2 linked regions of the Homo sapiens genome follow. The protein of the gene in region 2 purifies or fractionates together with the protein of the main gene of each other region. This does not show direct contact. Each region holds a gene or a part of one and is shown on either strand. Other genes may lie near its edges.

Region 1 (3,500 bases), on a different chromosome or scaffold from region 2:
GACCTCCCCATAGCTGTTGCCGCCTTCCTCAGAGACCATACAAGTGTATGTCCCAGTGTCTTCCCGTGTCACGGACTTGAAGGTGATACCAGTTGGCAAGAAGGTCACCCGGTCCTCATAGGAAGCTACCACAAGAGGAGGCAAGAGCAAGGACAGAGTGAACTGGAGAGCTAAGGGAGGCTGATGAAGGGGGCATCCAAGGTACGCAAGTGCTCTCCTCTTCCCCCAGAAAGGGGGGTAGGAAGGCCATGAGGACTTCAGCCCCAGGGTGTGCCCTGGGATAAGGGCACAAAGTCTGGATCGTAGAATCCAGGCATGATAATCCCTCCACAACCTAGGCAATCAGGAAGGAGGAGAAGCAACTCACCTGTGATCTTGTTATTATAGCAAACGAGTCTGGTGGTGTCTCCTTGGTCAAACTTCCACTCCACACGGGGAGAAGAAAAGCCCGAGTAGGCACAGGACAACTTCACAGCTGCAGACAGGGTCAAAATGAGCCGAAGGAAGAAGCAGCAGCAAATACACGAGATGGGGAACAGCCCCAAACTGCAGGCTGGGCTGGGTGCTCTCTAGATCCCCAGGCGGCCGGCAACTGCTCACCCTCACACCCTCCATGGCCCCTCCCAACTCACGATTATTCTCAGGAATTCTGACTTCAGGTTCAGAAGAGTGCACTGTAACACTGCCCAATGCCAGGGAGCCTAAGGAGAAAGAAAGAGGTGGGCCCTGTCAGGAGTGGACAGAGAAATGCCAGGAAGAAGGAGTCACAGACCCAGTGGACAGGGCTTCTCCATTCACAGACCCTAAGAGGAAGGGATTCCAGACTTATGCTCCCTCTGGCTCTCACACTTTGTCACCATGATCCTAAATGTCTTCTTTAAGTGCTTTTTGCTACAATTGCCAGCTAATACTTCTTTTATCCATGGGAATGCAGTTTCTTTTGCTTCTAATTTTTCTCTCTGTGACTCCCAATAATCTAATTAGATTTCTACTAGTCCAAGGGCAGCTTCCAGAATGACATTTCACTGTTCAGAGAAAGCTTCTCAACAAATGATTGCAGCCACTTGTCAGGACAATCCTGGAAGGAAGCCAGCAGGGCTGGAGGCAAGGGATGGAAGGGAAGGGCAGAGCCATGATGAGGATAATAATAATACTCGACATTTGTGGAGCATGTGGTGCTTTTAAAAGTGTTTTCGTGTACATTATGACACGTTGCATCATTTGATCCTGGACACAAGCATGACAGATCGGCAAGACGTATATTATTATCCCGAGTTTACATGAGGAACTGAGAGTACAAGAAGTAAATGTGCCTAAGATCACACAGCTGGGGCCAGGTGCGGTGGCTCAGGCCTGTAAACCCAGCACTTTGGGAGGCCGAGGTGGGGAGGTCATGAGGTCAGGAGTTCAAGACCAGCCTGGCCAATATGGTGAAACCCCATCTCTACTAATAATACAAAAATTAGCCAGGCATGGTGGCACACCTGTAGTCCCAGCTACTTGGGAGGCTGAGGCAGAAGAGTCGCTTGAACCCGGGAGGCGGAGATTGCAGTGAGCCGAGATCGCGCCACTGCCCTCCAGCCTGGGCGACAGAGCAAGACTCAATCTCAAAAAAAAAAAAAAAAAAAAAACACACAACTGGTTCTGAGGTGAAGTTTGCACTAGAAGTGGGTTCAGATCACCTCATTAGAATATTCTACTTGCCAAATGGAGAAAGAAAAGAAAAGATAGTGTGTGCTGGGTGGAGGGAGGGAGAAGCAACAAGGCTAATTAAATAATATGGGGGAGGTGCATCAGGGTTCATAGGAGGGACCCACAAAGGTCAAATTAAGAACCAGTGACCAGGGATTCTGGGATCACATGATGCAGCTACAAACCTGCACTTACACAATTATTCTCATCCATGTTTTCAAAGTCAAATTCATGAAATATCCTTTTATTTGTAGCTTCAAGTCAGGACCCTGTCTTAGATAAATGTTTGTAGAAGTCAAGCACATCTGTTAAATTCAAGTACATTTTTCTTTTACTTAATTATGCACATAACTGAATATGGTCTCTTGACCTCTGAGACTCCCCTTCCTCTCTGAAATATGAAATAGATGTGCTCTAAAGTCCTTTAGGTTCTTTTTTTTAAATTTTGGCATTAATGTTTAGATAATATTTGTATACCTGTATTTCAATCTGATATAATAACACTATGAATTAGTCCAGATAAGTATTCTCTCTCCCATTTTATAGATAAGAGACTAAAGATATAGGTTACTCCTATATCCTTTTTCTCTTATTATACTCTCTATTTATTTGTTTTTTTTTTTTTTGAGACGGAGTTTCACTCCTGTTGCCCAGGCTGGAGTGCAATGGCGCTATCTCAGCTCACTGCAGCCTCTGCCTCCCAGGTTCAAGTGATTCTCTTCAGCCTTCCAAACAGCTGGGATTACAGGCGCTTACCACCATGCCGGCTAATTTTTGTATTTTTTTTTTTTTTTTTGAGACAGAGTTTCGCTCTTGTTGCCCAGGCTGGAGTGCAATGGCGCAATCTCGGCTCACCGCAACCTCCACCTTCCGGGTTCAAGGGATTCTCCTGCCTCAGCCTCCCAAGTAGCTGGGATTACAGGCATGTGCCACCATGCCCGGCTAATTTTGTATTTTTAGTAGAGACAGGGTTTCTCCATGTTAATCAGGCTGGTCTCGAACTCCCGACTTCAGGTGATCCGCCCGCCTCAGCCTCCCAAAGTGCTGGGATTACAGGCGTGATTAAGCCACTGCACCTGGCCTAATTTTTGCATTTTTAGTAGAGATGGGGTTTCACCACGTTGGCCAGGCTGGTCTCAAACTCCTGACCTAAAGTGATCTGCCCGCTGCAGCCGCCCAAAGTGCTGGAATTATAGGCGTGAGCCACGGCGACCGGCCTAATTTTCTTTTTTTTCTTTTGTTTTTTTGTTGAGACAGAGTCTCACTCTGTCGCCCTGGCTAGAGTGCAGTGGTGTGATCTCGGCTCACTGCAACCTCTGCCTCCCACATTCAAGAGATTCTCCTGCCCCAGCCTCCTGAGTAGCTGGGATTACAGGCGCCCGCCACTACGCCTAGCTAGTTCTAACTAGTTTTTTGTATTATTATTATTATTTTTTTAAGATGGAGTTTTGTTCTAGTTGCCCAGACTGGAGTGCAGTGGCGCAATCTAGACTCACCACAACCTCCGCCTCCCAGGTTCAGGAGATTCTCCTGCCTCGGCCTCCCTAGTAGCTAGGATTACAGGCAGGCGCCACCATGCCCGGCTAATTTTGTATTTTTAGTAGAGATGGGGTTTCTCCATGTTGGTCAGGCTGGTCTCGAACTCCTGATCTCAGGTGATCCACCCGCCCTGGCCTCCCAAAATGCTGGGATTACAAGCGTGAGCCACCGCGCCCGGCAATTTTTTGTATTTTTAGTAGACAGGGTTTCACCATGTTGTCCAGGCTGGAATTTCTTTTTTTTAAAGAGCTGGGTTCTTGCTACATTGC
Region 2 (2,952 bases):
CCTGGTTCTCCTTGAGGCTCATGTAACCCTGTTCCTTGTTCCCGGAGAAGGGTTGGCAGCAGCGCCAAACATTCTCGCCTGGCCTCACCCGTTGCACAAAATTAGCTGGGAAGAAGCCAACCCGGTCGCCGATCTTGCCCTGGGGATGAGGTTGGCAATGAACACCCGCGCCACACCCCACCCCTGCTGCCCACCACTGCTTTCTCCAGACCCGGTTCCCACTCAGCACCAATGCCATCATCCTCCAGATCTAGGGCTCTCCGGATTCCAGCCCCCAGCCAGGTGGCTTCTGGGCCAGGAATAGCATAAGGTGAGCAGAGGGACAAAGCTGAGGCAAGGAGAGTCAAAACTGAGAGGATGTCCCAAGGGTTGGTCCTAGTTTTGGCTGGGACCAGTGGTTGGAGGAGAGGTTGTCTTTGGGGCCTGGAGAGAAGGTGGGGGCAGTGCCCATTGGGGGTGGGGGCTGCTGGGGTGCCTACCAGTGTCCCTCCACTCCCCACCCTGCCAAGTCACCTTCCACCAGTCCTCGTTAGAGTCATCCACCAGCATGATCCGATCTCCAGGCCTGGGGAGGACAGAGCTAGGGTTGCATATGGAGCAGGGAGTAGTGCCCCTCCCCATCCTAGCAGACCCTGGGCACCTGGGGGACACTGCAGTCCTCAGCTGGGAGAGACGATTCTTTTTTTTTTTTTTTTTTTTTTAAGATAGACTCTCACTCTGTCACCCAGGCTGGAGTGCAGAGGCACGATCTTGGCTCACTGCAACCTCCACCTTCCGGGTTCAAGCCATTCTCCTGCCTCAGCCTCCCGAGTAACTGGGTTTACAGGCACCTGCCACCATGCCTGGCTAATTTTTGTATTTTTAGTACAGATGGGGTTTCACTATGTTGGCCAGGCTGGTCTCGAACTCCTGACCTCAAGTGATCTGCCAGCCTCAGCCTCCCAAAGTGCTGGGATTACAAGGGTGAGCCACCGCGCCCCGCTGGGAGAGGATTCTTGATGCCCTCAGAGGACACCATGTGACCACAGGTACAGCAGGCACTCGCTGGGCAGCCCAGTCAGAGGGCGGGAGACACGACATTAGCATGAGTCACTCTTAGACCCTGGGCAGTTCCAGCTCCTGTCTGGGCTCAGCAGCCTCAAGCATGCAAGAAGGTTCCTGAAGGCCCCCCTCACACTGTGTTTCAAGGTCTGGGAGCGCAGAGCTGCCCAGCGGGGCCAGGTCACAAAGAGGACTTACTGCAGAGCCAGATCATTGTTCTCCTGGGGCAGAAACTTGTAGAGTGCAACGTAGGAGTACATGGGCCCCACATCCTTCCGCAGGGTGGCTTTGGGGAGCTGCGGGAGAATCTCTGGGTCGGTGACCGGAAAGCAGCACCCTCACTCCCCCCACTCTCCACTCGCTCTGAGTGTGCTACCCTGGGGGCTGTGAGGGGACACAGTGAGTCCTAGGTCAACGGCAGGGAGAAGTGAGACCCTCGTACATGCTATGCTCACCCACCCCAAAGCGCACTGGGACGGGAATGGAGAGGGGAGCCCCCTTCTGCCTGCTGTACCCTGGGGCTGCCTGCCTTTGGGAGAGAAGAAATGGGTGCAATGGGCAGTGGGCTGGGGGTGGGAGGGTAACTCCTCCTGCCTCCCATGCCCTCTCATCCTGGCATTGCCCATCCCTGAGGATAAGTGAGGAAGCAGTGAATCCCCACGCACCATGCTCTTGCCCCCCTATGAATCAATGGCAAGGAGAAATTACACCCGCTTCCCACCCTGACCTTCCGGGCCAATGCCAGTACAGGCTCACCTGCTGTCCAGGACTCTTCTCCTCTGGTCCTGGCCCTTCACTCTCTGCTGGGGCTGTGAATACTGGAGATGCTAGGGGCAGGAGAGGGAAAGGGTGAGAGGCAGCAGGGAGCACCCTCCATTGTACCCCATTCCTGCCCTTGATGCCCACCACCACTCACCACTGTCACCAGGCCCCTCCTCAGAGCTGCGGATGCTGCCTTCCCCATCCTCGGTCAGCTCATCCCGCTCACTCTAGGGACAGAGAGAGGAGAGGGCTCAGCCCCCGAGCCCACTGTCATGCTCAGACACCCCTCCCCAAAAGACCCCCCCTTTTTGCCCACCATACCAGGCTCCTTGTCGGGGACTCAGAGGTGCTGCTGAAACTGGAGCGGTTCATCAGTGCCAGGGAGGTGCCATAGCGCAGGGTCTCGTAGACAGGGTCCACCTTCCCACTGTCCCCTGCAGATTATCCACCCTCAAGGCCTGGCTCTGCCTCAAAGCCCTGCATCTCTAGTCCCGGCTCAGCATGCCCCAGGCTGAGCTTCCCAGCTGCCCCCTCACCTGTCCCTCCCAGGTCTTCCTCATCCCAGAGATGGCTCTGGGTCCTCCCATGGTGCCCATGCAGAAACTTGGAGCATCCTTGACTCCTCACTGTCCTCACTGCCCACAGCCACTCTGCCACCTAGTCCTCCCTCCTAGCATCCCTACAACCTATCCACATGTCTCCATCACCACTGCTAGCAGTCTAATTCACATCACCACACTCTCTTGGCAACTGTCATGGCCTTTCAACTGGTCTCCCTGCTTCCACTCTAGCCCTGCCAGTCCACACAGCAGCCAGAAAGCTTTTGTAGAAACACACAAATTACCCTTAGAAGAAAGTCCAAAAGGCTACCCTAAAATGGACCCCAAGGCCTCGTACCCATGGTCTCGTTTTTTCTTTTTTTTTCGAGACGGAGTCTCGCTCTGCCGCCCAGGCTGGAGTACAATGGCACGATCCTGGCTTACTGCAACCTCCGCCTCCTGGGTTCAAGCAATTCTCCTGCCTCAGCTGGGATTACAGGAGCCTGACACCACACCCAGCTAATTTTTTTGTATTTTTAGTAGAGACGGGGTTTCACCATGTTGGTCAGGCTTGTCTCAAACTCCTGACACTGTGATCCGCCCGCCTCGG

What was found. The genes of interacting proteins can lie anywhere in the genome.
Region 1: the proteins of STAC2 (region 2) and F11R purify together in Homo sapiens (affinity purification with mass spectrometry; one large-scale study listed by BioGRID and IntAct). This does not show direct contact.

Annotation. Positions count from the first base shown.
Region 1 is NC_000001.11:161,000,653-161,004,152, forward strand, and holds part of F11R (junctional adhesion molecule A isoform 1 precursor), read right to left. Parts: intron 702-3,500; coding exon 633-701; intron 476-632; coding exon 368-475; intron 126-367; coding exon 1-125. UniProt on the Homo sapiens protein: Seems to play a role in epithelial tight junction formation. Appears early in primordial forms of cell junctions and recruits PARD3.
Region 2 is NC_000017.11:39,212,994-39,215,945, forward strand, and holds part of STAC2 (SH3 and cysteine-rich domain-containing protein 2), read right to left. Parts: intron 2,238-2,952; coding exon 2,125-2,237; intron 2,031-2,124; coding exon 1,958-2,030; intron 1,869-1,957; coding exon 1,798-1,868; intron 1,426-1,797; coding exon of another isoform or gene 1,414-1,425; exon of another isoform or gene 1,354-1,413; intron 1,338-1,353; coding exon 1,240-1,337; intron 581-1,239; coding exon of another isoform or gene 566-580; coding exon 514-565; intron 140-513; coding exon 2-139; intron 1-1. UniProt on the Homo sapiens protein: Plays a redundant role in promoting the expression of calcium channel CACNA1S at the cell membrane, and thereby contributes to increased channel activity. Slows down the inactivation rate of the calcium channel CACNA1C.